Regions from separate parts of the Homo sapiens genome. Here all the other regions are linked to region 1. The links come from fine-mapping of genetic effects on gene expression. A gene starts in region 1. Each other region holds a variant in brackets. All regions are shown on one strand. Distances are from middle to middle. Region 1 holds the start of C8orf82 (chromosome 8 open reading frame 82). Region 2 overlaps TMEM276-ZFTRAF1 (TMEM276-ZFTRAF1 readthrough). Region 3 overlaps PPP1R16A (protein phosphatase 1 regulatory subunit 16A).

What was found. PIP is the estimated chance that this variant, and not a neighbour inherited with it, causes the effect.
Region 2: its variant is the best candidate, but not a certain one, in a credible set for the expression of C8orf82 in subcutaneous fat (GTEx, PIP 0.85).
Region 3: its variant is the best candidate, but not a certain one, in a credible set for the expression of C8orf82 in whole blood (TOPMed, PIP 0.88).

The regions. Positions count from the first base shown.
Region 1 is chr8:144,525,237-144,535,246 of GRCh38, forward strand. C8orf82 (chromosome 8 open reading frame 82) reads right to left here and starts at 3,875. Exons shown (of 3, transcript NM_001001795.2): 1 at 3,525-3,875; 2 at 2,788-2,836; 3 at 497-2,551. The coding sequence starts at 3,680. The coding sequence ends at 2,106. LRRC24 (leucine rich repeat containing 24) reads right to left here and starts at 1,797. Exons shown (of 5, transcript NM_001024678.4): 1 at 1,724-1,797. ARHGAP39 (Rho GTPase activating protein 39) reads right to left here. Exons shown (of 12, transcript NM_025251.3): 8 at 8,893-8,966; 9 at 7,890-8,089; 10 at 7,069-7,160; 11 at 5,466-5,635; 12 at 3,943-5,380. The coding sequence ends at 5,186. RefSeq lists enhancers at 1-77, 810-1,666, 2,524-3,380 and silencers at 1,592-1,981, 3,109-3,403, 3,361-3,410, 3,421-4,010, 4,742-4,841.
Region 2 is chr8:144,451,923-144,461,932 of GRCh38, forward strand. TMEM276-ZFTRAF1 (TMEM276-ZFTRAF1 readthrough) reads right to left here. Exons shown (of 5, transcript NM_001408018.1): 3 at 1,300-1,538; 4 at 437-648. It overlaps ZFTRAF1 (zinc finger TRAF-type containing 1), which reads right to left. Exons shown (of 4, transcript NM_001330618.2): 2 at 1,300-1,538; 3 at 437-648. Among named protein-coding and RNA genes, the nearest start is that of MIR10400, 5.6 kb to the right of the region's middle. The variant A/C (reference allele first, on the strand shown) is at 5,007.
Region 3 is chr8:144,478,980-144,488,611 of GRCh38, forward strand. All of the region lies in intron 1 of PPP1R16A (protein phosphatase 1 regulatory subunit 16A), which reads left to right. Among named protein-coding and RNA genes, the nearest start is that of PPP1R16A, 5.8 kb to the left of the region's middle. RefSeq lists enhancers at 5,291-5,990, 5,991-6,690. The variant C/T (reference allele first, on the strand shown) is at 4,582.

The DNA of each region.
Region 1 (10,010 bases):
GTCTTCACAGGATGTGACCATGTAGGGAGAGCCACCCAACCCTGTCACCTTCTCCTTCTCCACCCATGCCCAGCAGGTCAGGAGCTTCCTGCTCAGGACGTGGATGTGTGTCGCTTGCTGCCCCCGACTCTACCCCCAGGCAAGTGGCTGCTGCTTGGTTCTAGGGTGCAAGAAGCTGGAAGTACAGGGTATGGCTTGAGAACTTTGCTTAGGTGACAAAGCCCGGGGTCCCATTACCCAAGCATGGCTAGGAGGGGGAGAGCAGGCCCTGGGCAGACACGCCTCCTTGTTATCCTGTGGGGGCCTGGGCAGAGCTGGCCTCAGAGGAGCTACGAGCCCCAGGGAAGTCAAGGCACAGCTTTGTCCAGCACCTGCTCCTGCTGGCCTAGGGGTGGGACCAGCTTAACTAGAATTGGGCCTTTTTCTCAGGTAACCTGTCAGAGAATTGGGGGATGAGAAAAATAATAGGAAATTCGGTTCAGGAGCCATGGGTCTGTGCTTCCCATGCCGGTCCCCAGAAAGGTGTCCTGTCTTTGGGGATAGATGGGGCCCTGGGAAAGCTGGGGTGGGACAGGGGACGCCTTGGGCCACCAACTGGGTTTCTGGTGTGGCTTCCCAAGTGGGCTCTGGGAGCAGTGTGACCTCTGAGATCAGCAAGGAGCAGGGAGTTTGCTGGGGGACCATATACATGTACTTGTCGTAAAGAAATGGGAAGGCTGGGGTCTGGTTTCAGGAACAAGGAGCCCAGTTTTAAAAGTAGGGATCTGGGCTAAGCCAGCCAGCCCACCCGAAGCCAGGGAAAACAGGGCTGCAGGTGTCCTGTCTCCCAGCCTCATCTGGCCGGCCTCCCCAAACATTTGCCTGTCCATCAGCTCTTCCTCCTTTCGAGTCATGTGGAAAGGGACAGGACCAAGTGGCCTTGGTGTTTAAATCTTGCCCTAAATTGTAACTCACATGATTATTTAAAGTCACTAGAAATAAGTAAGCACAGCAATAAAGTTTTAATGGAATAGCTTTGGCCCAGGCAGAGGCAGTTCCCAGATGTCTCAGGACGCGTGTGAACCCCAAGAAGTTGGGGGCGTTATCTGGGCCCTTGGGATCCATTCCCCTGGGTATAAAGTGTTGGTACGTGGCTCCAGGCCTGGCCCACTCAGCCTCCCCCAGGAAGGCTTCTCAAGTGGAGAAGGTTCTTGGCCTCAGAACTCACGGCGCTGCTGCTCACGCTGACCCCCCACTAGATGCAGATCGGTGTAGAAAGGCCTGCCAGGGCAGGGATGAGGGCCCCAAGCTGGAAGCAGCCCAGAAATCCTTTTACCAGAGGACAACTCCCTAATCCGCTGGGCAGGGGCGGGGTGTCACACGCAGGATTCCGCGACGACTGTCACTGCCTCCTGGGCGCCCCTCTGTGCGGGAGCGGGGAGGGAAGAGGATGGAACGCCCTGTGTCTGCCTCGGGCGCAGTGCGAGGCCCAAGCTGGTCTTTGGGCGGCCCTTGCGCACCTCTGCAGCGCTGCGACCTGGTGCCTGTATCCCCCACGGCCTCCTCTGCTACCCACGAGAGCCGGTTGATTTTCGGCCGGGCTCAGGGAGGGCGTGGCCTCCGCGTTCCCCATCCCCCTCCAGGACCCACGCCCTTCTCGGAGCGCACCAGGGTCAGAGCCGGGATGGTCCCCGATCCCCCAGCGCCCCCACGCCTGGTGACCTTGGGTCGGGCGTCCCCTCACCTGACGCTCCCGCGGCGAGCGGCTCCCCCGCCGTGCAGGTGGCGGCCGGGCCCGAGCAGTCGCCGGGCTGGGAGGGGGCGGGGGACGCTCGCGCACGCGCACCAGAGCCCCGCGCCCGCCGCCAGTGCCTGACGTCTCGAGCGCAGGCCAATCCGGAGGGCGCCGGAGTCGGGTGCGCGGGGGGCGCGCGCCGTGGGGAGCGGGGTGTCCGGGAGGGCCGGGCCGCGGCAGCACCAAGGACAGCGCCGGGTGGGGGCGGGGCCGAGCGCGCAGGCGCACTAGGCTGCCGCGAGCGCGGGTGGCGCGGGCTTTCCGGGGCGTGGAGTCCCGGGGGAGCGGGGCGAGAGGCGCCCGCGGCCTCCCGCCTTTCCCTTGGCCCCGCTCAGGGCGACCGAGCCGCGAGCAGCAGCGGGGCCAGGTCCATGGTGAGGGCGAGGCGGCGGCCCTGCCAGCGCACGTGCGAGGGCAGCGCAGGCGCGCCGGGCCCGTACTCGAAGCAGGCGCTGAGCTCGAAGGCCAGGGCGGAGCGCACCAGGCCCACGCCGCCCGCACGCTCCGGCGCCGGGTGGTACAGGCGCCCGTTGGCGGCCAGGGGCAGCAGGCGCGCCGGCTCGAAGGGCACGGCCAGGGCCTCGCCACCGCCGCAGTAGGAGAGGCGCGGAGGCCCGTGGTCCGCGGTCAGCAGGTGCGTGAAGACCACCGGCCGGTCCTCGCAGCGCAGGAAGTTGCGCTCTCTGCCGCAGGGCGAGAGGAAGGGGAAAGCGGCCTCGTAGCGCCCGCTGCGGTTGGGTCTCAGGCGGGAGAAGAAGGTGACCAGGAACTGCGGGTCTGGGGGATGAAGGGTGCGTGTACTCAGCGCGCTGGGCTCCCAAGGCCTCCGGGCCCAGGACCATACCGAGGGCAGGCGCCGACGGTAAGAGGTTCGCCTGGCCTCACTCAGCGGGGCTCCTGAGCGCAGGACGCCCACTCCTTGGTGCGCTGGGCCCGTCGGCAGAGTCGGGGAGCCCATCAGGGGCTGCCCGGAAGGGAGAAAGAAGGGGCTGGAGAGGGAGGCACAGCATTACCTTTGAAGCAGGTGATGAAATTCTTCATTTTGGAATCATCCAGGAAAAGCTGCAGATAGAGGGCCAGGCCGTGATAAGTCCCAGCGTGCAGGTGGGGGCGGGGAAGCTCAGGAGGTCCTGAAGCTCGGGAGGTCCTGAACCGGCCCGAGCCCACTTTTCCTGCTTGTCTGTGCACACCGCATGCAGGGAGGCGCGTGAAAGGTAAACCTGGGGGCCCCGCCGACTTATCCGCGTCTATGCGCACCTCTGCTCCCTGGTCAGCCAATTCTTTCCCGCACCTTTTCCCTCTTTTCAAGTTTGTAATCAGTTGTACCACCTCCTCCGCGGAGACTACCTGGCCTGCTGCCTCCCGGACATGCAGCTGCCTTTTGACAGGGCTTCCAAAAAAAGGCAGGGCGGCCCGGGTGTCTCCCTGGCAGCGGCGAGAAGTCAGCGCCGGGGCTGGGGACTTGTAGGACAGAGTCCGAAGCTGCACAACGCAGCAGGGACGCGGCCCATGTAGGAGCCTCGGCCCGGACCGACCCAACTCCCCGTCTTTCCAGCGCGCTCTCCTCCAGCTCTGAGGAGTCGAGGTTGCCCACCGCGCAGGCCCCGCCCACCCACCCACCCCCTGGAACGTCCCTCCGGCCCCGCCCCTCGAGCAATGGTCCCGCCCACAGAGCCACGCCCCCCCCCCCGCCCCGCCCAGAGACCTCTCCCGGCCCCGCCTCTCGAGCAACGGCCCTGCCCCCGCCCACCTGGCCCTGGTGGTCCACGTAGTAGAAATACTCGCGGGTCCGCGGCTCCGGACTCTGGCCCTGCGTGTAGGAAACGCCCCCATCCCCGCTGCAGGCCCGGGCTCCCCGCGACCGCGCCAAGGCCAGGGTCCGGAGCGTCCCGCAAGGCGGCCACATTCTCCTCCCGCGCCGGAAGCGACCAGCAGGTCACGCCGGGGGCGGTGCTGCGCGAACTCGCGCCTGCCCGCAGTAGCCCCGCGCTTCGCGTTCCGGCGGCGCCCGCCTCCGCGACCCGGGCCCGGCGCTCTTCCCTCTCCCTCGGGCCTCGGGGGCTCGCCCGCCCTGGCCTTCCGAGAGGCGTGTGCCGGTGACGCCCCTTCCGGTCCGCCCCGCGTCTCTTCCCGCCCCCGGCCGCGCCCACAAGGAACGGGAGGACGCGCAGGGTCCATGTGCACTTTATTCACTCGTGTCGTCGCCTCTCGGGTCCATGCGTCGGGGCGAGCGTCTCAGCCGGGCGGGACCGCAAAGGCCCCGGGACCACCCGACTGAGGACGCCGCCCAGGCCTCGGCAGGGCTGGGGCTTTTGTTTTTAATAAATAAAAACGGAACTCTAAAAAATATATATATAAAAACTGGGGAGAAATTAAGTTTTACAACAATTGGAACTCAAAATTCCAAAATGGAAAATGTACAAACTCGGTCCCCCAGCAGCTCTGGCCCCGAGAACGGACAGTCCCGGGCCCGGCGCCTTCCCGCTCGCTCGTCTCCTGCAGGTCTGGGATGGGGATGGGGTAGAGCTTGGTTTTTGGTCAGAAGCCAAGAAAAAAGATCGGAGAAGAAAAGAAGGAATGACCTCAACTTGCTCTGCACGGAGGACGGGGACGGCTCAGAGATAAATAGCATTTAGGTTAAAACTATGTCATTAGCAAATTTAGTTCTTATATCTTTCCCTCTATTTATATCTCTATACACGGTGGGCTGCGATGCAGGATAGATTCTGGATTTACAGTTACACGAAGAAAAAAATACTCTCGCCCCTCCCCCACCCTGCCCCCAGAATGCCTGCCCAGCCCTGCTCCCTACCCCAGAGGACTTTGGTTTGGGGGCCCCCACCCCACCCACCGAGAGCCTGCCAGGCCCCGGGCCCACTGTCCTGGAGCCCCCAAACTCCTGAGCAGTCACCAGCTGGGGACCACGGGCCGAGGGAGGGAGAGGAGGCGGGGACAGGTCGGGAAGCTCTCTCGGGGCTGGGAAGAGCTGCAGGCCAGGACGAGGACAGGAGAAAGGGAAGGAGAGACCGGGGCGGCTGGGCAAGGCCCAGGCCAGGGCGCGCAGGAGCCACAGGGAGGCAGCCCGGCCCCAAGGAGGCAGCGTCGCTCGGCTCCAGGACACAGAAGGCACTTTCTCGGAGCTGACCCGCGGCCAGCGGAGGGCGAGGCGGTGCCCGCGGGAACTGGCCGTGAGGTGGGGGGCCAGAGGCGCCCTCCCCGCCGCTGCTGTGCCCTGGCTGCACCCTCAGACCAGGCAGAAGACGTGGGGAGCGCCGGGGCCAGGGGCCTGGGGGAGTGGAGGGGGCTCCAGGGCTGGGCCGGGCGATTCTGGCCCCTCTGCCGGGAGAGCGAGTGCGGAGTTCGGCCTGGCTGGGGGCGGCAGGACATCCCTCCTGTCCCCGGGCGCCCCCGCTACAGCACACCCTCCATGAAGCTGGTGTCCAGGTGCTGGATGAGCACCCGCAGGAAGGACATCTCCTTGCGGGTGTTCTCGAAGATGACGCGCGGGTCGTCGGACTGGCAGCGCAAGCAGTTGGGCGCCATCACCATGGCCAGGTTGCTGACATCCATCTTGGTGACCGCGACGTTGGCCGGCTGCACGAAGACCTGGTGGAGGAGCGAGGGTGGGCGCGGAGGGGCGGGGGCGGGGCGGGGAGGGGAAAGCAGCGGGGACCCCCGGGGAGGGAAGTACCTGCAGGAAGCGGATGAGGTAGCACAGCACCATGCGGTTGATGCGGGGCAGCGCGTGCACCACGGCCACCGCCGCCTCGGGGCTGTCGTAGTGCGCGATGCACTGCTCGTAGAACTCGTGCGGGATCAGGGGCTCCTCCAGCTCCCGGTACCACAGCTTCAGCAGGGACGCTGGGGACACAGCACGGGGCTCAGCGGCCCTGCTCGGCGGGCACCCCTGGGCCAAATGGGGTCCCGTGGCGGACATGCATGGAGGGGTGCTGTGGGGGACAGGCTGGGAGGGCCGGCTCATTCTGGACAGGGCCCATCTGGCCAGGCTGGGCCCTGACCCCAGAGGGCCTTTCGGCTCCTGGGGGCCTGAACTCGATCCTGGAGGCATGTGGGTCACGCCAGCAGAGTTGTGCAAAACAGGATTTTTCTCAGGAGTCGTCTGTGTAGCCACCGTGAGGGGGTGTCTGCAGAGCAGGCACAGCTGAAGGGCACAGGGCAGAGAGCAGCAGGTGGGGAGTGGGCTAGACATAGCAGGCACGGCAGAAGGGCACAGGGCAGCGAGCAGCAGGTGGGGAGTGGGCTAGACATAGCAGGCACGGCAGAAGGGCACAGGGCAGGGAGCAGCAGGTGGGGAGTAGGCTAGACATAGCAGGCACGGCAGAAGGGCACAGGGCAGCGAGCAGCAGGTGGGGAGTGGGCTAGACATAGCAGGCACGGCAGAAGGGCACAGGGCAGGGAGCAGCAGGTGGGGAGTGGGCTAGACATAGCAGGCACGGCAGAAGGGCACAGGGCAGCGAGCAGCAGGTGGGGAGTGGGCTAGACATAGCAGGCACGGCAGAAGGGCACAGGGCAGGGAGCAGCAGGTGGGGAGTGGGCTAGACATAGCAGGCACGGCAGAAGGGCACAGGGCAGGGAGCAGCAGGTGGGGAGTGGGCTAGACATAGCAGGCACGGCAGAAGGGCACAGGGCAGGGAGCAGCAGGTGGGGAGTAGGCTAGACATAGCAGGCACGGCAGAAGGGCACAGGGCAGGGAGCAGCAGGTGGGGAGTGGGCTAGACATAGCAGGCACGGCAGAAGGGCACAGGGCAGGGAGCAGCAGGTGGGGAGTGGGCTAGACATAGCAGGCACGGCAGAAGGGCACAGGGCAGCGAGCAGCAGGTGGGGAGTGGGCTAGACATAGCAGGCACGGCAGAAGGGCACAGGGCAGGGAGCAGCAGGTGGGGAGTGGGCTAGACATAGCAGGCACGGCAGAAGGGCACAGGGCAGGGAGCAGCAGGTGGGGAGTAGGCTAGACATAGCAGGCACGGCAGAAGGGCACAGGGCAGGGAGCAGCAGGTGGGGAGTAGGCTAGACATAGCAGGCACGGCAGAAGGGCACAGGGCAGGGAGCAGCAGGTGGGGAGTGGGCTGCATTGCACAGGTAGGCCTCGGGGTGCCCAGCAGACACCTGGGGAAACTGTCCAATGGGCAGAAGGGAGGATGTGCTAGAAGTGACTGGGAAGCCATCACATCACTGGGCAGGATCAGGGTGGACCCCAGAGGCGGAGACAGGGGCCCCTGAGAACCACTGCCTGAGCCAGGCCCGCTCTGCTGCAGCGTGTGTGGGGGACTCACCAGGGACGTGGGGGTCTTCCAGGCCTGTGGGCACCTTCCACTGGTCCACCTGCAGCTTCAGGGCATTCACCTCGTCAATGTCCCCAGGGACCCTGCAGGGCACAGGGCAGGTCTCAGGCAACAGGAGCCTGTGCTGCGGCTTCATGATTCCGCCTGGACACTCCCTCCGGTAGGCCCCTGCTGACCCGGGGAGGGGAGCAAAACCTCAGGACCCCCCGCCACCCCGGTTGGCCTCTTTCCCACGAACGTGGGTGGGTGGCGCTCTTCAGGATTCCTGCCCCACACACCTGCGTCCGAGTGTGGTGCTTCCCCAGGCCACCGTCCCTCCCTGGACCCCTGCTGGCTCCCTGGGTGGATGCCCTCACCAAAGGGCCACTGGGGCTCAACCTGCAAGCCTCAGTTTCCCCAGCTGCCCTCCTGGGGCCTGGGTACCCCTTGCCCTGACAGGTGAGTCATGGGAGTGGGTGGCACCCTGTGCCATCCCTGTTCACAGACAAGGGCTGCCTGTCATCTGAGGCTCCCACTCCAGGCTACCCATGGCTGGTGTCCAAGCACGCTCTGGACCCCTGGTGGCCGTCTCTGCAGGGGCGCCCTCCCTGGCTGGCTGTGCTGCCTCTTTGGAATGGGTCCTGCCCTCTCTCCTGGCCTGCACACCCTCAGGGTCAGCTTCCACACTGTGGCCCCACCCTTCCATCTGCTCTCAGGTATGGGTGCGGAAGCAGCCCAGTGGGCCTGAGGCTTAATGGCCCCTGCATGCCACAGATGCATGGTGGACACATGGCTGTGGCCCCCACACCCGGCGCCCGGGGTTGCCGTGGCACCTGAAGATGCCCTCTGTCTGGTCACCGTTGAGCGCCAGCACCTCCTCAGAGAGCCGTGTCTGCACCCAGGGCAGCTGGCGCTCGGGGTAGCGCTCTCTCTGCATGCCCATGACCTCCTGCAGTGCGCTGCCGAACATGGACGGGCTGAACACGGCGTTCTTGGCATGCCGGATCTCCTCCACGTTGGGCTTCTTCAGCCCCTGTGAAGACAGAGGCTCCGTCCTGGTCTGGCCTGGCCATCCTCAGGACCCCCCGCCACCCCGGTTGTCTTCTTTCCCCGAACATAGGTGGGTGGCGCTCTTCAGAATTCCTGCCCCACACACCTGGGTCCGAGTGTGGTGTTTCCCCAGGCCACTGTCCATCCCTGGACCAGCCCTCCTCGCCCCCCAAACCCTAACTCCTCCTGGGCTGCCCCTGGCTCTGCCTCCCCCTCCTCTCATCCCTGTGAACTCCTGGCTCCAACTAGAGCTACGGACAAGCCCAGCTCCCTGGCCAGAGTCACCGTCTACAGCACCAGCTCACAGGGGCCCTTGGGAAGGTGGGAGTGAGTCCTGGGCCGGCCAGGGCTGTTGGGGAGCACAGCAGAGGCCAAGCTAGCTGAGCTGGGGTGAAACTTCCAGAAGTCTGTGGCAGGGCTGAGAGCGCTGGGGAGGGGTATGATGGGAGCAGCGCATCAGAGAGAAGAGGATGTGGGGAAGGGGCCAGGCTCTTGGGACAGGTCCAGGGAACGGGGTCCTGTCCCTGTGGTGCGGTGTGACTGAGCCCGTTGCCTGCCTTGCTCCTGAGCTGGGGGTCCGGGCCCAGGAAGAGCCCCCGGGGGAGGGTGCAGCCCAGAAGAACACGGGGTCAGCCTAGCGTACCCCGCCACCCGCCTAGGCGGGCTCCATGTGGCACCCTCTGCGCTGCTGCCCCATACCAAACTGCAGGCGGGGCTCCTGGGGCTGTCCACCAAGGGTCTCTGTGTCCCCGCCTGCCCTCCCCGGCCCCCCAGGCGCACCCGTACCTTCTTGGCCCCGGTCAGGGCTGCCTTCTGTAGCTTGTGGTAACAGTACTTGGCATACGTGCTTATCGCCACCCCTGGAAAGGAAAGGGGCCTGATCAGCCTGATGTGGGTGTGTGGGTGTGGGGCCAGGAGAGGGGTGAGCAGACACAGCTCCTTCGAGGGCCCTGGGGGGCTGGGCTGGCCTTGCCCCGGTCACCCCCTGCCCAGCACAGCGGGTCCTCACACTCTCCCAGGCAGTGTCCTTTAGAGCAGAGGCCCAAGGAGCACTTCCCCACCTGCAGAGGGACAGGCTTGGGAGGAACCGCCTGGCAGCTCCACCTGCCCTCCTACGGCCACGCAGGAACAGGAAGGGCAGGACCTGGGTCTGAGGGCCTCTAGACCCCACTGCTCCCTCCCCGGGGCCTGACCCAGGGAGCTGTCCAGGTATTTGACTCTTCTCTGCTTCAGGCCCCTCCCTGGCTTTTAGGCTGTGGGCAGGAGCCCCTGGAGGAGTCATTTCCACCTACCCAGCACCCGCAGCCAGTGCTGGGGGAGGCAGGCACTGAGCTATCTGCACAGCAAGCCCAGCTCTGCTGCAGCCCTGGGCCTGAAGTACCACCTCTGGGCTCTTCTGAAGGACTGAGGCAGCAATGAGAGGGCCCAGTCTCCTTTCTCAAAGGAGGGGCTTCCTAAAACTCAGCCCGACAGCAGGGTCCCTGAGGGGAGGGGCAGTGTGCCTGAGTCAGCACCTGATGAGGGACTCAGGGACCTCAGCCTGGGGAGTCTCCAGACACAGAGCCCAGGGGAAGGTGCTAGAGGGGAGAGGATTCCCAGGCTGGGTCTGGAAGGCGCGGCACCTTCCTGCTCCAGGTCGGGAAGCAGCAGATGAGAGAACACGCCAAGAGAAGCTGTCTGGGGCCAGGGGAGCCATGGACCTCGGACAGATGGACAGGACCCTGTGCTTCTGGACATGAGACCTGCCCCAGCGCCCAGCGCCTACCGCCTGCCAGGGTGAGGGGGGCCTCTGGATCCTGACCCCCAATCGGAACACCTTTGTCTTCTTTGAAGGAGCAGTTTCTGGTGGACAGCTGAGGGCATGGGGTCCTTGGACCAGGTTAAAAAAAAGTGCACACGTGTCT
Region 2 (10,010 bases), 73 kb before region 1:
ACTGCCTGCAGGTAGGACCTCACTCGGCAGGGTGCTCTTCTTGCCCCAGGGTCCGAGGGGCAGGCCCCTAGCTCCCAGGCCCCCTGAGACCTGCCCACTTTCTGGTTAGACCCTGACTGTCTTGAGGCTCTGGAGCCCCACAGTGAGATGCCACCTTGCAGGGATGGTGAAGCCAGGGTGGCGAGGACAGGTGGGCGGGGCTGCTGTGAGAGCCACACAGGTGTGCACCTGGGGTCTGCCTCGGCCCCTCCTTCCACTCAGTCTCCGGCCTGTCTTCTCGACCGAGGTGTCCACCTGTCCACCGGGAGCTTGTCCAGAGCCCGGCTGTCCGGCGCTGTCAGTGCCCAGTGCCCAGAGCCTGCTGCCCCCAGACTCCTGGCTGCCAGCCCCCCAACCCACACCTGTGTGGCATGCAGCAGGCGGCGGGGCGCCTCACCTGTGTAGCCAATCTTCTCGAAGCTGAGCAGGCTGAAGATGCTGTTGTACAGCTGCATCTCCTTGCGGTGGCTCTGGTCCATCCCATCCAGGATCTCCATCAGCTCACTGCCTGTCTTGGTCGGGTGGGCGCACGCAGCCTCGTGCACCGTCAGCTCATGGAAGGGGCCGTGCCATGGGCAGCCGATGCGTTTGTACTTGCACTGGGTTACCCTGGGGGAGGCAGGTACATCACTCACAGACTGAGCCCCGAACAGGAGGCTGCAACAAGCTGTCCTCCCATATGGCTTCCATCCAGCTAAGAACCCCTTCCTGCAGGACACACGTAACTGTGAGCCCACCCCCCAGGATGAGGTCAGAGTGGCAGCATGTGGAGAGAAAGGAGACAGGCAGAAAAAGGGAGAGAGAGGGGAAGGAAGAGTGCAAGCTTGAGCCTGTGTGCCCCGCACCATGGCGTGGTTCTCTCCTCTGTTTGGCAGTGGTGGTCCTGCACAGCCTCACTGCAGGAGACTTGGTGGCTGCCTCCACTGGATGGGTAGCCATGGGCAGTGTACCCTCACACCAAGCTCCCTGAGGTCCTGCGTTGGACACGCTGTCCTGGGCCCTTCAAGGGGCTCCCCCACAGCCACAAAGAGCACTGGAAGGCTAGGCTCATGTCCGGATAACAACTGGGTGCAAAACCCACCTGTCCCCATCCTGTGCAGGCACCCTCCCACAGGGCCGTCACTGGGCTACACAGGTGGTCCCCAAGGCCCAGACAGCAGAGACAGCCAGACCACCCTGCACAGGGCCCTGCTGCACCAGGGTGGGCTCCCAGCAGTCCTGGGCCCCGCCTGTAAGGCTAAGCCCCTGACCCTCAGTTACCTGTCCTGGCATTCCTCTTTCTGGTGCCTCTCCAGGAGGGAGCGGGGAAACTGGCGCAGGCAGAAGCCACACTCTGAAGGCAGCTCGCTCACGGCTTTCTCCACGGCCAGGTTCCGGCAGCAGAGGCTCTTACTGATCTCACAACGACAATTGGGGCACGTGGCCTGCTCCTCCTTCAGCCGGGCATCTGCTAGTAGGTGGATAAAACAGCCAGCGCACATCAAGTGACCATTAGTACACTGCGAAGAAGGAAAGGGAGACGAAGCTCACAGACCTGCGGGCTCATGCTCGCACACACCCGCCCATGCCCATCAGCTCCAGCCAGGTGTCCTGAGGGACTCCAGCTGGTGCAGAGGGGCGCACGTGCCTGTCCCGAGTCGTGCTGGAGTGTGGTGAACACTGCGAGCTGCTCAGGAGAAACAGGCAGAGCCAGCTTGGGTTCTTGCAGAGATTAGAGGTCCTAAAAGCAAGGCCTCATCAGCTCACAGAGGTGACAGCTCGCCCTGGCAGTGACGGGTTCAGCCACCTGGGGCCGAGGGTCACGCTTTTCCCTTAGGGACCAGCGACTGCCCTGACCCCCCTACAGGTCCAGAGTTTGGGAGCCCTCCAGGAACACTGGGCTCTTGGCCATCACTGTCAGGTGGGGAGCGGATGCAGCTCCCACACTGGGGCAGGCATGCTCTCTGGGCCTTCAGAAAGGCCATTTATCCTGGGTTGAGAGGACTTGGCTCAGGGTGAGCCCAGGTGAGAGGAGGCAGCTGCCCCCTCGTCCAGGGAGGTTGGCTACCTGCAGAGACCTCCTCAGAGCTGGGAGGCAGGAGCCAAGCTGGCCCAGGACAAGGACAAGGGCAGGTAGGCACACAGGGAGTGCCTGGGGAGCAGAAATGGGGGCTCTGAGTGGGTGCCGAGCCTGCTGGGGTAACCGGGGCTGGCAGGAGCAGGGCACCTCCCGCTGGGCTCCCTGCCTGTGTGGGCTCCCAGCACGCCCAGTGGCCTATCCTGGCTCTCACTCCCTCAACATAAGCCTCGAGCGTCCACTTGGTGCCACTGAGAGACACATGGCAAGCTGCGGTCCCAGCCCGTGGGGGCTCACAGCATGGGAGGTGGGAAGCCCAGACCAGAACCAAGAGGTCCAAGAACAAACAAAGCCTTTTGTACCTGAGCAGACACAGTTCCCACAGCCCTGGCTGGAGTGGGGTGTGTGGGCTGAGGCATTCCAGGGCCAGCCAGGAGTGACAGGGATGTGATGTGCCTCCCACCCAAAGACTCTTAGAGCTCGCTGAGGGGAGCAGTCAGCAGAGTTGCTCCTGTCCTGATGCCTCTCCAGCAGCCGGCCCAGGCTTGCCAGCCATGCAAACCTCCAGAAAGCCACTGGGCTACAGGCTTCCTTTGGGACCTGGGACCCTCTTGAGAATGGGATGTGGTGCAGCAGAGCAGCCTGCCCAGGCCCAGCCTCTCTACAAGGTGTGTGTCAGGGAGGGGACACTCACAGGGCCCTGCCTGGTGGCGCTGGGAGGCCGGCCCTGCCTGGTGGTGCTGGGAGGCCAGCCCTGCACACGTGGGGCCCTGGGAAGTCTGAGCTGCCATCCTACTGCTTCAGCTGCCTGTGCACCCCAAGCTAAGGAGCTGTCAGACGCTGGGGCTGTTCACTCAGCACCTGTGGACTAGGCCTAAGGCCTGCTGAGTCAAAGGACCTACATGTGGAGAACCGACAGTGAGGACAAAGCCCTCTTTCATGGAATCCACATCCACATGAACACCACCCGTTACCTGCATTCAATCCTCAAGTTCTCAGTTTGGTTAAAAATTAAAATTACAGGCGGTGGCTCATGCCTGTAATCCCAGCACTTTGGAAGGCCGAGGCAGGCAGGTCACCTGAGGTTAGGAGTTCATGACCAGCCTGGCCAACATGGTGAAACCCCATCTCTACTAAAAATACAAAAATTAGCCATGCATGGTGGCGAGCGCCTGTAATCTCAGCTTCTCAGGAGGCTGAGGCAGGAGAATGGCTCGAACCCGGGAGGCGGAGGTTGCAGTGAGCCGAAATGGTGCCACTACACTCCAGCCTGGGAGACAGAGTGAGACTCTATCTCATGAATACATAAATAAATAAAAATTAAAACATACACAGTTGCCTGAGGCAGGGAGTGAGACTGGCTCTGACTGGGTTGGGGACAAGCTGAGACCTGCCCCCAGGAGAAGGTGTGAAAATCCGCCAGCCAAGTCCAGGGGTCAGTGGTGGGTGGACTACAGGCAGGAGGGGGCACAGATGCTATTGAAGCAGCTGTCCTGTGGGAGGCACAGACCAAGGGCCCACACCACTGTCCTCTCACAGCCCCCCGCCCCCCGGAGGTATGCCACTCCACGTGGCCAGCTCTAAACACCTCCTGGTGAGACTGCCGGGGGCCTTGGACGAGGTTCTGGGTCCAGCTCTGCACGTACAGTGGCCTTAGCACAGGCAAAACAGCACTCTTCTTGGCTGTGGCCCGACCCCCAAGGGAGTTCCAGGCAGGGCTGGAGCATCTAATGCCACCCACCAAGGCCACCTGGCCTCTCTTCCTGGCTCTGCATAGCCCAGGAAGATTCGAGGTGGGGTCCTAGACCCTCCTAAGGGAGCACTGAGGCTGCCAAGCACATCACCACTTACCTCCCAGCACTGCGGGCCTCTCCCCCGAAAGCCACCCCAGCTCCTGGGCCGGCCCCTGGCCACAGGCCTCATTCCTTTGGGGCCTCCAGATCCCAGCATGGGCTCAGTCAATTCCATACCATGAGGAGGCAGCAGTGACCCTGCCCTCCTCTGGCTCTCTCTGGGCCTCCAAGAGGACCTGCAAGCTCCGAGGAGACACAGGGCCATTGCCCCTTCAGCCCCAATAGCTCCATTCAAGTCAGAACACAGGGAGTCCCTAGAGTGCCCTGGACTACACTGGCCCAGTAGCCAAGGGACACAGCCACACTCACCCCCAGACCCTCCCCACTGGTCAAAGGACATCTCTAGGTGCATGGCCCGGTCCCGACCAACACTCAGCCCAGGAGGTCTGTCCACAGCAGGACGGTCCCTGGTCACATGCTCCGGAGCCTCCCCACCATCTGGGTCCCCTCAGCCCCTGCGCAAGACTCTGGCTCTACACCAAGGCCAGGCCACAGGCAGCTGCATCCTTGGCCCTGGCAGCATCTGGCCAGATGCACTTGATTCTGACTTGTGCCCAACACCCAACAGAAGCTGGGCCCTGGAGGGCGCCGCACAGTCCAGGGGATGGCGTGGGCCAAGGCCCCCAAGAGCCCGGGCACCTTCCAGAGCAGCTGCTGTGGCACCCAGGCCAGGCCACCTCTCCCCACCAGCCAGGAAGACCCCAAGGGAGGGGAGAGGAGGGGATCCACAACCCCCCACGACCAAGAATGACGCCATGGGGGATGACATCATGGGCGAGACATCACAGAGGATGATGTCAGAGGGGTGACATCGTGGGAAATTGACATCACATGGGGAATGACATCATGGGGGAGACATCACGGGAATGATATCACGGGATGATGTCACATGAATGACATCACAGGGGGGACATCATGGGAGACTGGCATCACATGGGGGGATGACATCACCGGGGGATGACATCACAGGGGCATGACATTGCAGGGGAATTGCATCATGGGGGGTGACATCACGGAATGACATCACAGAGATGACATCACACTGGCATCATGAGGGA[A/C]TGACATCACAGGGGATGACATTACGGGGATGACATCAAAGGGAGTATTGACATTACAGGGGATGACATTGTGGGAAATTGACATCATGGGGGACTGACATCATGGGGGGATGGCATCATGGGGGGAATGACACCATGGGGATGACATTAAAAGAGGTATTGACATCACAGAGGTGATACCACAGGGGATGACATCATGTGGTGACAGCACGGGAATGACGTCACATGTATGACATCACAGGGGAATGATGTCATGGGGGAATGACATCACGGGGGAATGACATCACAGGGCCTCCTGGGCCCTCCTAGGGCAGATGTGGGCTTGAAGCCACAGTGCTGGGCTCAGACGCCAGCCCACAGATCCCCAGTAATATGACCTTGGGCTCCCCTCTTGGGGCCTCAGTTTCCTCATGTGCACAGGTGATGAGTATAGGACCAGCTTCATTCTGTGCTGATGAGGTGGGATGGGACAGGGTGGCACTGCCCCACACCCAACAGGCAGACAGGAAATATCACCACCTTGGGCAGCCATGGCAGAGCCCCTGGGGCTGCCAACCCCAGGAGCCAGACCCCAGGCCCCTCTGCAGATGCTGATACACACAGGTGGCCCAGAAATGGCCATTTGCACCTGCATCCTCAGGACAGCACCCAGCCCTCCCCCCTGCTGGCTACAGGCAGCTCACGTGACCCCCATGCAGACCCAGGGTCTCCACCTGAGCTACTTCTTCCCTGGGGTTAAAGGGGAGCTAGATGGGCGGAACAGGCTCAAGGAGCCCTGACCCCATCCCCTGGCTGAGGGCCCCCACGATTTCCTGGTGGTCCCAAGGTCTCTATGGTCAGCTGACCTTGTAGGACCCCTTTCACACCTGGACTGCATGGTTCTCTCAGACCCTGGGGACCTCCTGTTTGCCACTGGAGGATGGCACAGTGCCCAGGCCCATGGGAGCAGTGCCCTCGCTCACCCAGGGGTCAGGGACCCACAGGCCCTTGACAGAGGTCGTCAGAGCCAAAATGCAGCCAAAGGGCTTCCCTGTGGCACAAACCCCAAAAGCGCTGCTCAGCCAGTTGGAGGTCCCCCTTCCTCTGCCATCTGCATGCAGGCAAGGCCTCACCAGGGCCAGTGGTGCTTCAGGGCACACCCCATGCACCCCGCGTGCTCGGCCCCTAACCTCCCGAATCAAACATGGGTCTGAGAGGGACTGGCACGTTGTCCAAGGCCGCACAGCTGTTAAGCATGAAGCCAGGACTCGAACCCTCCACCCAGGCTGGATTTGAAGTCCCTCACCTGCTACTGCTGTCAGACCTCAAACGGTGGCCAATCAATCCCCAGAGTCGGGCCCACATTCAGAACAAGGCTGCTTAGATCTAAAAGTAACTCAAATGATAACCACCACAGAAAACAAAAATTCCAACTAGCCAGAGATTCCAGAACATCTTCCTTGCTCCTGTGTTTTAGATACCTAAGCAGACGTATTTACAAAGATGTTTTCTGCCACTTTCCTCACCTCAAAGAACGAGTCAGCTGCAGTCCTGTACTGCTGCCCAGGAGACTGGGGAAGAGGGGCCCGAAGCTCCTTGGACATGTGGATGGTGACTCCACCCCCCCAGGACTGCACACTGTTGGCCTGGTTGGGGGTGTGGGGCTCGGGCAGAGAGGAGCCATCTCTGCTTCCTGGGCTGTTATCAATGGACTGTCAACATGTGGCATAGAGACATGGGCGCTACAGGCGGGAGGGCCACGGCACACACCAACCCACCCACAGAACAGAGTGGACACACCCTGGTCAGATGGGGCAGGAGGGGATCCTTGTAGCAAGGAGAGAACAAAGTCTCAAAGTGGGGGCGCTGCCTCTGCCGGGCCCAAGAGGTGGGCAGGGGCAGGGAGAGGACACCTCAGGCAGGAGAGCATGGGAATGGCAGGGCACTGTGCAGGGCCGAGTTAGAGGGAGCGGCTGGACCACATCTGTGAGAGGCCCCTGCCCGGCACTTACACCCGAGTGAGCCCGTTTTTGCCTTAAGAATGCCCCATGAGGGGTGGGAACAATGCGCAGTCCCTTCCTCCAGGTGCCAGCACCAAGGCCCAGGGCCTCATCTGACAGCAGCAGGAAGGGTCAGGGCCAGGTCTGTCTTACGCAGCATCACACTGGGCCTCGTCTGAAGGGCCAAAATGGAGGGAGAGAAGTCAGGGATGAGGCTGCGGCTGCAACGTCCCGGGCACCGCTGAGGCTGTCTCTTCCCAGAGGAGGTGCCCCATGGGCAGAGGTGCCAACAGGCCACACTGCCCTCGGGCCGCAGAGCAGGGAGCCGGCAGGAACGACCTGACCACCTGCGCGGCCTGGTCAGGCCAGAAGCTCCTGCACAGGTGTAACTGCTGCCCCACCAGCCCTCCTGCCACCCACCTGAGACTCCAGAAGGTGGCTGCACACCTTGTCAGGCCAGTCCCCCAGAACATATCTAACACCCACACAGAGAACATAAAAGCTGAGTCTTGCTGTACTGGCTGCAGCCCCAACCTGACGTGAGGCAGGACTCGGCGGTGGCGGAAACCTTTTGCATGAGGGCCTCAGTCTGACACCCAAGCAGGTTTCCCAGCCTGTGAGGCATCATCGTACGGGCACAGGCCCATGGGTCAGCTGGCCCTGCAGGCCCAAAGGCTCAGACCTGGGGCACCACCCGAGGCTTCCCTGCCAGCACTGGTGGCATCTGGTATCTGGATGACAAGCTCTCGAGTTACTGAGGACCCAGCCAATTCCAGAGGCCCATGGAGTTGTCCCCCACAGCCCCAGTGCCAGGGAGAACACACAAAGCTCAGCATGGCCACTCCCCTCTTCTCACCAGAGTCAGGGACTGTCTAAGTCAGCCCCCAGCTTGGCTGGTGCCCACCCTGAGCCATGTGTTCTGCTGGGGTCAGGAAAAGCGTTCTAGCAGGAACAGAGGGTGGAACCTGCTGCATTCCTGACACTGGCTGGCTCGAGACAGCCAATCAACGTGGTCACCAAGGAAAGCTAGTAGAATATGGTAGACTGAACCCAAGCTGGGGTGATGGCCAGCATGGGCCCAACCAGGGACACGCAGAAGGCAGCATGTGGGGGCCCACACCATCTGTGCCCAGATTCTCCAGGGAGCAGAGCAGGCCAGAGCCCAGGTCTCCAGGTCTGTGTTGACCTTCCAGGGGCACCACTCACAGCCGAGAGCCACCCGCCGGAGGTGTTCTTCGCAGCATTCAGGGAGGCCTGTGCCCACAGCACTCCTCGCTCAGCTGCTCTGTTCCCAGGGAAGTCACTGAACAGAGCCCCCAGGCCAGGGAGGGCCACCAGCCAGGGCAGCCCCAGCGCCTTCGGTCTCCATTACACCTGTTCAGCTCCCTGCCTCTGGCCGCCCAGAGCAGAACTCCACTCTGCACAGTGCAGGCCGGTTTGAACCAGCTAGGCTCAGAGGCCTGGTCACCAGGAGCTCCGGTCAGAAGCAGAGCCATCACTCTGTGCCGGGCCAGTCTAGATGGGGGATGCAGTGCACCAGGGACCAGTACCATGTGGCCCATCACCACCAGGTCCAGCTACAGCTCCAGCCCACCCACCAATGGGGAGACAAGGAGACTTCCCTGTTCCCCCGTGGCCTCACACCATTGGCTTGGCTTGTTGGAGTCTCCCTCGAGATCCAAGAAAAAGTTCTGGCCAAGCGCAGTGGCTCATGCCTGTAATCTCAGCACTTCAGAAGGCCGAGGCAGGCGGATCACCCAACGTCAGGAGTTCGAGACCAGCCTGGCCAACATGGCGAAACCCCGTCTCTACTAAAAAATACAAAAACAGCCGGGCATGGTGGCAGGCGCCTGTAATCCCAGCTACTCGGGAGGCTGAGGTAGGGAGAATTGCTTGAACTCGGGAGGCGGAGGTTGCAGTGAGCAGAGATCGTGGCACTTCACTCCAGCCTGGGTGACAGAGTGAGACTCCGTCTCAAAAAAAAGGAGAGTTCTTCCGCCTGGGAGGATCGAAGGTTGTGAGCCAGGAAAAAGGAGCTGGAGAGTGGGCACATCTTGGAAGCTGAGGCACTGCCAAAGCCAAGGAGTAACTGCTAACTCTGGGAGCCAGTGGCTCTGAAAAGTGCTCCCCTAGCTGGCCCTGGTGCCTGACACCCAGGAGGGTGGGTTAGAGCCAGTGCCCTCTCCCCACCCAGGCACACTGGGGTCCTCCCGACAAGGTCATGCCACAGCAAGAAGGACTTGGAGATCCAGAGTTTGGAGAAATGGCAACCTAGACTAGCCCTACACCACCTGCTACAAAAGTAGCTCCTCATCCAGGCCCCCAATTCAAACACAAGCAGGGAAACAAGGCCCCATTAGCTACTTCCAGCTCCTGTAAGTGTAAAGAAAGCTGACAGAGAACCTGCTTCATTTCTCACAGGGACTGGGGAGTTGAAAGAGAGGGAAAGACACAGGGAAGGTGGGGACACTGTACTCTGCCTCTGGGTGTCAACCAGTTTGTCCCTGCTGCTACCTGGGAAAGGGCATGTCAAACCCACCTGGGCCAGGTACCCTAACAGCCCTAGGCTGCTTAAGGGCTGAGTCCCACTGCCATGCGGATGTGAAGATGGGGGAGGAGGGGTGGGCCGGCTCCTGGAGCACTGGCTGCCTAGGAAGCCTGGCCTGGCCTGGGTGAGGTGGGCAGGAGCCTAGCGTGGGGCATGGCAAGTCCAGTTGGATGTGGGGTTTGGCTGGGACTGGAGAAGGTACCCAAACTGTGGGGCTTGTTGCAAATGGTTCATCCCGACAAACAGCAATCCCCTCTCCTTACTGTTCTTCAGGATGAACTGGAAATGGACCAAGAGAAAGGATTCTTCCACCCAGGAGGGTAGAAAAGGAGGCGTCCATAGGATGTTCAGGAGTGGAGGGACAAACTCGGGGGTGTGGCTGCCGGAAGAATGGGGAAGGAGCTCTCGAGCACAGGACTCTGAGCCCAGGGAGCTTGGGACCGGGTGGGTTGCGGGGAGCAGTTGCGGGCTAAGGAT
Region 3 (9,632 bases), 46 kb before region 1:
GGATTCCTACCTGGGGGTGGAGGTGGAGGCGGGGGTACCGCTGCCTTTCTCAAAGTGTGTCTAGTCCAGCAGTGAGCCCTCCTGGGCGTCTTGGCGCCCCAGTTGCTTCCTGGACGTATTGGGGTTTCTCTGGGAGAAGGGTCTTGCCTGCAGTACCCTGGGCCTCCTGAAGAGGCCTCTGGTTGCGCTGCCTGATTCAGGGACCCAGAGCCACGACTCGCCGAGAGGAGCTCCGGCGGCGTGCGGCTGGGTTGCCTGAGGGGCTGGGGGCTGCCTGGTGGACTTGCACACATGCTGGCTCCATACCTGTCACTGTGGTGGACGCTCAGAGCTCTACAGGGCCAGCTGCCTGCCCCTGCCCCAAGTCCCCCGGGCTGGGGTTGGGATGGGGGTGGCTTTAGGGGGTCCTTCCCCCTCCTGGTGCTCGAGCTGGATTTCCTCCCTGTTGGCTGGGGCCATCCCTCGTGTCTCTGATTGGCCTGTCCTGGCCTCATCCCTCACCTGCTTGGGATGCACTTGGACTCTGCTTTGCCCCGAGGGTTGCCTGGGCTGGCACCTAGCAAGGGGGCTCCTCCTGTATGACTGTACTTTGGGGTCTGTGTTCTAGGGATTCTTGAACCTCTGGTCTGAATGAACAGCCGATTGATACAGCTCTCCACTGCATGCAGCTTAGGAACCTCAGTCTCAGGTGACCCCACAGACTACCAGCACCCCCAGCTCCACCCTTGCTCTTCCCCGAGCGTGTCCTAACCCTAGCACTTGTGCCACATCTATCCATTGGCCAAAATGAGAACTGGGTGGCAGTTCCAGGCCCTTCTTTCATGCCGAGGCTCTCCTGGCACTGGTGCACGCACACCTAAAGGGAGGCCTTTTCATCAGACTTGCTCAGCCAGGAGCTCAGAGCCTTCCATGTCACATCCTGTGCTGGGACCCCTGTGCCAGAGGCTCAGCAGCTGTTCACTTGTTCAGCTCACTGCACTTACTGAGTGCTGCCTATGAGTCAGGAACTGGCCAAGTTCTTAGGATGCAACAGGGAAACAAACAGTAACTGGCATGTCAAGAATTAAAACAAGGTGATGAGATAAGAGAATGACAAGGTAACCACAGAAGATCTCTGAGGAGGTTGCACTTAAGATGTGATCCGAGTCCCACAAAGGAGCATGCTGTCCTAAGATCCGGTGGAAGAACTTTCCAGACAGAAGGAGCAGCTGATGAAGGTGGCGGTGATGATGAAGCTGGTAGCACCAAATAAATGTGCTAGACCAGGGGTTGGCCAGCTTTTACTGTGAAGGGCTAGGCAGCAAACATTTTAGGCTTTGCTGACCATGTGGCTTTCTGTTTTTTTGTTTGTTTGAGATGGAGTCTCACTCTGTCGCCCAGACTGGAGTGCGGTTGCACAATCTCCACTCACTGCAACCTCTGCCTCCCGCGTTCAAATGATTTTCCTGCCTCAGCCTCCCCAGTAGCTGGGATTACAGGCACATGCTACCATGCCAGTTAATTTTTATATCTTTTTTTTTTTTTTTGAGACAGAGTCTTGCTCTGTAGCCAGGCTGCAGTGCAGTGGTGCAATCTCAGCTCACTGCAACCTCCGTCTCTCGAATTCAAGTGATTCTCCTGCCTCAGCCTCCCAAGTAGCTGGGACTACAGGCGCATGCCACCACGGCCAGTAATTTTTGTACTTTTAGTAGAGATGGGATTTCACCGTGTTGGCCAGAATGGTCTCGAACTCCTGACCTCATTATCCTCCTGCCTTGGCCTCCCGAAGTGCGGGGATTACAGGCGTGAGCCACTGTGCCCAGCCCATGCTTTGATTTTTTACATCAAACTTTATTGAGGTGTAACTTACAGTAAGATGCACCTATTTTAATGGGTTTTGTGTGATGGGTTTTGTTTAATGGGTTTTGTTTGATGGGTTTTTTTTTTTGACGGAGTCTCATGCTGTGTCGCCCAGGCTGGAGTGCAGTGGCACGATCTTGGCTCACTGCAAGCTCCGCCTCCTGGGTTCACACCATTCTCCTGCCTCAGCCTCCCAAGTAGCTGGGACTACAGGCGCCCACCACCACGCCCGGCTAATTTTTTGTATTTTTTTAGTAGAGTCGGGGTTTCACCATGTTAGCCAGGATGGTCTCGATCTCCTGACCTCGTGATCCGCCCGCCTCGGCCTCCCAAAGTGCTGGGATTACAGGCGTGACCACCGCGCCCGGCCTGTTTGATGGGTTTTGTGAACAACGTCATAATCCAAATATAAAACATTTCCGTTGCCCCCAAAAGTTCTCTCGTGCTCCTCTGTGGTAAGCCCTTCCTCACACCCAGCCCAGGCAATAGTGATCGCTTTCTATTACTGTAGGTTTGGCGTCCCTTTTTAAGAATTTCACATTGGCTGGGCGTGGGGGCTCACGCCTGTAATCCCAGCACTTTGGGAGGCTGAGGCGGGTGGATCATCTGAGGTTGGGAGTTCGAGACCAGCCTGACCACCATGGAGAAACCCTGTCTCTACTAAAAATACAAAAAGTTAGCCAGGCATGGTGGCGCATGCCTGTAATTCCAGCTACTCGGGAGGCTGAGGTAGGAGAATCCCTTGAACGTGGGAGGCGGAGGTTGCGGTGAGCCGAGATCGCACCATTGCACTCTAGCCTGGGCAAAAAGAGCGAAACTCCATCTCAAAAAATAAAATAATTTCACATCAATGGAATCATATGGAATGAATACTTTTGTGTCTGATTTATTTTGCCAGATGACAATGTTTTAGAGATTCAAGTGGTTTTGTGTATCCGTAGTTGATTCCCTTTTTCTTTTTTCTTTTTTGTTTTTTTGAGACAGAGTCTTGCTCTGTTGCCCAGGCGGGAGTGCAGTGGCACGATCTTGGCTCACCGCATCCTCCGCCTGCCAGGTTCAAGCAATTCTCCTGCCTCAGCCTTCTGAGTAGCTGGGACTACAGGCGCCTGCCACCATGCCCTGCTAATTTTTTGTATTTTTAGTAGAGACAGGGTTTCACCATGCTGGCCAGGCTGGTCTCGAACTCCTGACCTCGTATCCGCCCGCCTTGGCCTCCCAAAGTGCTGGGATTACCAGTGTGAGCCACTGTGCCCGGCTGCCGCCGCCGCCGCCGCCGCCTTTTTTTTTGAGATGGAGTCTTGCCAAGTGCAGTGGTGTCATCTCGGCTCATTGCAGCCTTGGCCTCCCGGGTTCAAGCGATTCTTCTGCCTCAGCCTCCCAAGTAGCTGGGACTGTAGGCATGTACCACCACACCCAGCTAATTTTTGTATTTTTAGTAGAGACGGGGTTTCTCCATGTTGGCCAGACTACCTGAAGTGATCTGCCTGCCTCAGCCTCCCAAAGTGCTGGGATTATAGGCATGAGCCACCGCTCCTGGCCAGTTTATAGTTTTCTTATTTTTTATTTTATTTTTATTTACTTATTTTTGAGATGGAGTCTTGCTCTGTTGCTCAGGCTGGAGTGCAGTGGCACAATCTTGGCTCACTGCAACCTCCACCTCCTGGGTTTAAGCAGTTCTCCCTGCCTCAACCTCCCGGGTTTAAGCAGTTCTCCCTGCCTCAACCTCCCGGGTTTAAGCATTTCTCCCTGCCTCAACCTCCCGGGTTTAAGCAGTTCTCCCTGCCTCAACCTCCCGAGTAGCTGGGACTACAGGCACATGCCAGCATGCCCAGCTAACTTTTTTTTTTTTTTTTTTTGGGACAGTCTCACTCTATCGCCAGGCTAGAGTGCAGTGATCTAGGCTCACTGCAACCTCTGCCTCCTGGGTTCAAGCGATTCTCCTGCCTCAGCCTCCCGAGTAGCTGGGACTACAGGCGCCCGCCACCACGTCCAGCTGATTTTTGTAATTTTAGTAGAGACGGGTTTCACCATGTTGGCCAGGATGGTCTTGAGCTCCTGACCTCATGGTCCACCCGCCTCAGCCTCCCAAAGTGCTGGGATTACAGGCGTGAGCCACCGCGCCCGGCTTATTTTTTTGTATTTTTAGTAGAGACGGGTTTTTGCCATTTTGGCCAGGCTGGTCTTGAACTCCTGACCTCAGGTGATCCGCCCCCCTCAACTCCCAAAGTGCTGGAATTACAGGTGTGAGCCACCGCGCCCGGCCCAACTTTCATTTCTTTTGCGTATGTACCCAGAAGTAGGATATGCCTTCTTTTTTATGTTGTGTGGCTGACAGAGTTACGTTCTGTTCTGTAACGATGTTCACATGTCAGTCTTTCTATCTACAGAACCAGGCAGTGTGTGTAAAGTAGGTTTCCTCATCTGTGGGTCCAGTGTCCCAATTCCTGCCTCCTACAAATGATGTTCTTGGCTGGCTTCAAGTTCAAAGGCTTTCCTCCTGTTTCATGCATCATCAGTCTCCTTCATCACGTGAATTTTTTGAACTTTGTCATCCTATGTGTTGTGTCGTTCTGTTTTCTTTATTTCTTTTTATTTATTCATTTATTTTTGAGACGAAGTCTTGCTCTGTCGCCCAGGCTGGAGTGCAGTGGCACCATCTTGGCTCACTGCAACCTCTGCCTCCTGGATTCAAGTGATTCTCGTGCCTCAGCTTCCTGAGTAGCTGAGACTACAGGTGCATGC[C/T]GCCACGACCGGCTTTTGTATTTTTAGTAGAAATGGGGTTTTACCCTGTTGGTCAGGCTGGTCTCGAACTCTTGACCTCAGGTGATCCACCCGCCTTGGCCTCCCAAAGTGCTGGGATTACAGGCATGAGCCACTGCGCCCGGTCTCTTTTTTTTTTTGAGACAGAGTCTTGCTCTGTTGCCCAGGCTGGAGAGCAGTGGTGTGATTAGAGATCACTGCAGCCTCAAACTCCTGGGTTCAAGCAATCCTCCTGCTTTGGCCTCCCATATGTTGGGATTATAGGCGTGAGCCACCATGCCCAGCCCTTCCCTGTTTTCTTTTTCCTTGGCCACCTTCCCCTGCTCATCTCTCTGCTCTGACAGCTCCTACCATCTTTCCTTCCAACTTCTAGGAATGTGCTGGCTGACTGTGAGCTCTCTTTCTTGGAAATGCCTTTCCAGCTCCTGTCCCAGGCTCACAGGCATCTCAGTGGCTTACTGTGTCACCTGCGCCCTAGGTTGGTTGTCTAGACCCCACACCTCTGTTGTCCTAAGGCTGGGGACCCTCACGGTCCCAGTGCTGCCTCCTTCCACACTCCCAGGCCCTGTGCCACTGGCACGTCTGTCCGCAGGTCCCCTTCCCACAGCCCCACCTAGACCGAAAGGTCTGTGTCTCTGTGAGGAAGTGAATACCGAGTCAGAGCAAATCCTGGGTTACAGCGCCGACCCCTCTGAAGCTCACTTTTGTGATTTTGGTTTCCTCACCATTGTACTTGACAGACCTTAGTTGCCACATCTACTCCGTGGGGGTTATGGCCCATTAGAGCTATGAGGCTGAATGAGGCAGTTCATAGGGAAGGCTGCTTGTGGCCCTGGCTTCTAGAAAGGTGTGATTTGCAGGGGCTGCTAGGAGCCCTCCCTGCCCTCTCTTCCCTTTCTTTTGGTCTAGGGCTGGCTTTTATCTTCAGTTCTCGTTGAGTCTCTTTTCAAATGCAGATGCCTCAGGCTGCCAGCTTCTTTCATTTAGGCATCTGGGCCTTTGACACCTTGCTGTGAGTTAGTTTATTCGATTTATTTTGAAGCCAGGTGGCAAGGGGAAAGGAAATTGAAGAGGGAGATGCAACGCTTCCCCTGGTTTCTGGGGAGAGGCTTCCCCAATTCTCCAGCCCCTGACAGACATTGCGTGAGAGCTCATGGTTAGCGGGCCAGTCCCTGGTGTGGTCCACGCGTATCTCCTGTCCCGGGCTGGAAGCATGATGTGTGCAAATGTCCAAATCACGGGGTCTTCCCTCCCTCACAGGGCTTTAGCCAGGCAGCTGTTACTGAGGTAAATAATGATTTGTGTTTGTAGATAAAAAATAGTGGAATAGTTTCAATTTCATATGGTTCTGCTGCTGGGTGTTATGCAGGGGGAATCTGAGGAGCACTGAGATCACTGGGAAAGAGGCCGGGTGCGTGGCTCACGCCTGTCATCCCAGCACTTCGGGAGGCCGAGGCAGAATGAAGAATCTCATGCCAGGGGCCAGAAAGGAGGCTGAGACCAGAGTGTGAGTAGGAGTCAGCCCCCTCAGAGGTGGGACCAGAGAGGAGGCTCCTTAGGAAGCCATAGTGAGGAGGACATGTGGGACAGGCTCAAGGATTGACAAAAGAACCAGTAAAAAAGAATAGAATCTCAAAAAAAAAAAAAAAAAAAAAAAAAAAAGGCCAGGCGCAGTGGCTCATGCCTGTAATTCTAGCACTTTGGGAGGCCAAGGTGGGTGGATCACTTGAGGTCAGGAGTTCAAGAATAGCCTGGCCGACATGGTGAAACCGTGTCTCTACTGAAAATACAAAAAATTAGCCAGGCGTGGTGGCACACACCTGTAATCCCAGCTACCCGGGAGGCTGAGGCAGGAGAATGGCACGAACCCAGGAGGTAGAGCTTGCAGTGAGCTGAGATTGCGCCACTGCACTGCAGCCCGGGCAACAGAGCAACACTCCATCTCGGGAAAAAAAAAAACAATAGATAAAGAAAAATAAATAAAAAAAGAAAAGAGATGGCTCAGAGATCCCTTGTAGACTTCCCGGGTACCCATGTGGTAACGTTGCACCTGTCAATGGAGTACAGCAGTTCAAGGGGATGTTGACACCAATGTGCTCCATTGACCTTATTCAGATTTCACAGCTTTCCATGTGTCTACCTGTGTGTGTGTGGTTTAGTTCTGCGCATCTGTCACTGTAGGGTTTGTGTGAGCCCATGGCCAAGATGCAGCACAGCCACCATAGGGACCTCTTGAGCTGCCCTCTTGCAGCCACAGCCACCTCCCTTTCCCAGCCTGAACCCCTGAGAGCCACTGGTATGTTCTCCATCTGTATGGTTTCACCATTACGAGAATGCTCCATAAATGGAGTGCTGCAGGGTGTGGGCGTTGAGGTCGGCGTGATGTCCTGAGGTCCATCCAGTTGTGTGCACTACTAGTGTGTTCCTTTGACTGGAGGAAACGTCTATGGTATGGATGGACGGACCATCATGTTTCACCTGTTACAAGACATTTGGTTTTTTCCCCCAGTTTTTTGCTATTATGAATAAAGTTGCCATGAACATTTATGTAGTTTTTTGTGTGACTTAATTTTTTTTATTTTTTGAGACAGAGCCTCACACTGTTGCCAGGTTGGAGTGCAGTGGTGTGATCTCGCGCCACCACACCTGGCTAATTTTTGTATTTGTAGTACAGATGGGGTTTTGCCATGTTAGCCAGGCTGGTCTTGAACTCCTGACCTCATGTGATCCCGCCTGCCCCAGCCTCCGAAAGTGCTGGGATTACAGGCGTGAGCCACCACGCCTGACTTAAATTTTCATTTCTCTGGGATAAAGGCCCGTGAGCGCAGCTGCTGGGTGGTTTGGGAGTTGCATGTTGAGCTGTTTTGGTTTAAGAAACTTCCACACTGCTCTCCAGAGTGGTGGCTGTTTTATTTCACAGGTTTTCATCAGCTCCTGTGAGATTCCTTTGTCCTCACATCCTTGCCGTTTGGATTCGTGGGCAGCGGTATCTCGCTGTGGCTCTAATTTGCATTTTACGAATGGCGGGTGATGTTGAGCATCTTGTCACGGACGCATTTGCCATCTGTGTATCCTCTTCAGTGAGGTGTGTCTTTGCATCCTCTGCCCATTTTCTAATTGGATCGTTTCATTTTTACTGCTGATTTTTTGAGACTCGTGTGTTCTTGACAGCAGTCCTTTGTTCTGTGTGTGGTCTGTGGATATTTACTCACTCAGTAGCTGTCTTTTCATCCTCCTCTCAGGGTTTTTAGCAAGGCAAAAGTTTTTAATCTTGTCAAGGTCCAGTTTTTCCGTTTTCCGTTTTATAGACTGTGCTTTTGCTTTTGGTGTCACCACTCTGTAGAAGTGCTATTATTTTACCTTTACGTTAGATTTGCATTTCACCTGGGGTGGGGGTCAAGATTCTTTTCTTTTCTTCTGTTTTTTTGTTTTTTGATTATTTTCTGTCACCCAGTCTGGAGTGCAGTGGTGTGATCTCGGCTCACTGCAACCTCCACCTCCCAGATTCAAGCGATTCTCCTACCTCAGCCTTCAGAGTAGCTGGGACTACAGGTGTGTGGCACCACAACCGGCTAATTTTTTGTATTTCTAGTAGAGACGGGGTTTCACCCTGTTGGTCTCGAACTCCTGATCTCAAGCAATCCTTCCCCCTCAGCCTCCCGAAGTGCTGGGATTACAGGCGTAAGTCACTGCGCCTGGCCCCAGCACCATTTATTGAAGGCTTTTCCACTCCCAGCAGTGTCATAAATTGCATGTCTACACATGTGTAGGTTTATTTCTGTTTTGTTTTGGGGACAAAACAAAACAGTCAGAGACAGAGTCTTTCTCTGTCCCCCAGGCTGGAGTGCAGTGTTGATTTCGGCTCACTGCAACCTCTGCCTCCCAGGCTCAAGTGATCTTCCCACCTCAGCCTCCCAAGTAGCTGGAACTGCAGGGGTGCACCACCATGCCTGGCTAATTTTTTAAATTTTGTAGAGATGAGAGTCTCCCTGTTTTGCCTAGGCTGGCCTTGAATCCCTGGGCTCAAGTGATCCTCCTGCCTCGGCCTCCCAAATTGCTGGGATTGCAGGTGTGAGCTGCCTCATCTGGCAATTTTCTGGACTCAACCGTATTCCATTGGTTTATTTCTCTATGCCTAAGCCAGTAACTTAGGTCTTACTTACCAAACTGTATATAATAAGTCTTGACATCTAATAGTGTAAGTACTTCAAATTTGTTCTCTTTCAGGCTTATCCCTAGTGTTCTTGGCCTTTTGTGTTTCCATATAAGTGGAGCATTAGCTTGTGAGTCTCACACTGTTGGGGTTTTGATTGGGACTACGTCAAATCTTGGATGAATTTGGGGAGAAATGACATCTTTTCAGTTCTGGGTTTTGCAACATATAACGAGATGTCTCCTCCTATATCTTCCCATAAAGATATGGTTGTGGTTTACTCTGTACATCTTTTGTTAGGCTTATTCCGAGGCATTGAGGCTTTTGGGTGCTATTCTGTTGTTCAGTTCTAAGTAGGAGTGGACATCCTCCCCTGACAGCCTCTGTCTTTCCAGGGAATTTGCTTTGGGAGGGCAGGAGAGAAAAGGCAAGGGAAGCTCTTTCCAGGGGATATGCTTTGGGAGGGCAGGAGAGAAAAGGCAAGGGAAGCTCTTTCCAGGGGATATGCTTTGGGAGGGCAGGAGAGAAAAGGCAAGGGAAGCTCTTTCCAGGGAATTTGCTTTGTCTGGGAGGGCAGGAGAGAAAAGGCAAGGGAAGCAGATTTCTGCAAGCGTCAGAGCCCTTGAGGGAGTGGCTCTGCTATGTTCAGAGTCACTGGGGCTGTGGGAGCAGGAGGGCATGGGGCAAGGTGAGGGCATGGCAGCGAGGGAGGCACTGGAGTGTTGGAGTCAGGGCTTGTAGTAGCGAGCCAGGCAGAGAGGAGGCGATGGGCAGAGAGTGGGATGTTGAATGGAGGTGACAGGCATGGGCTGCAGTTACTGGTGGTGATGGAGCACAGCTGGCCAGAAGATAAGGACACTGGTGTAGAGAAGAGGTCAAG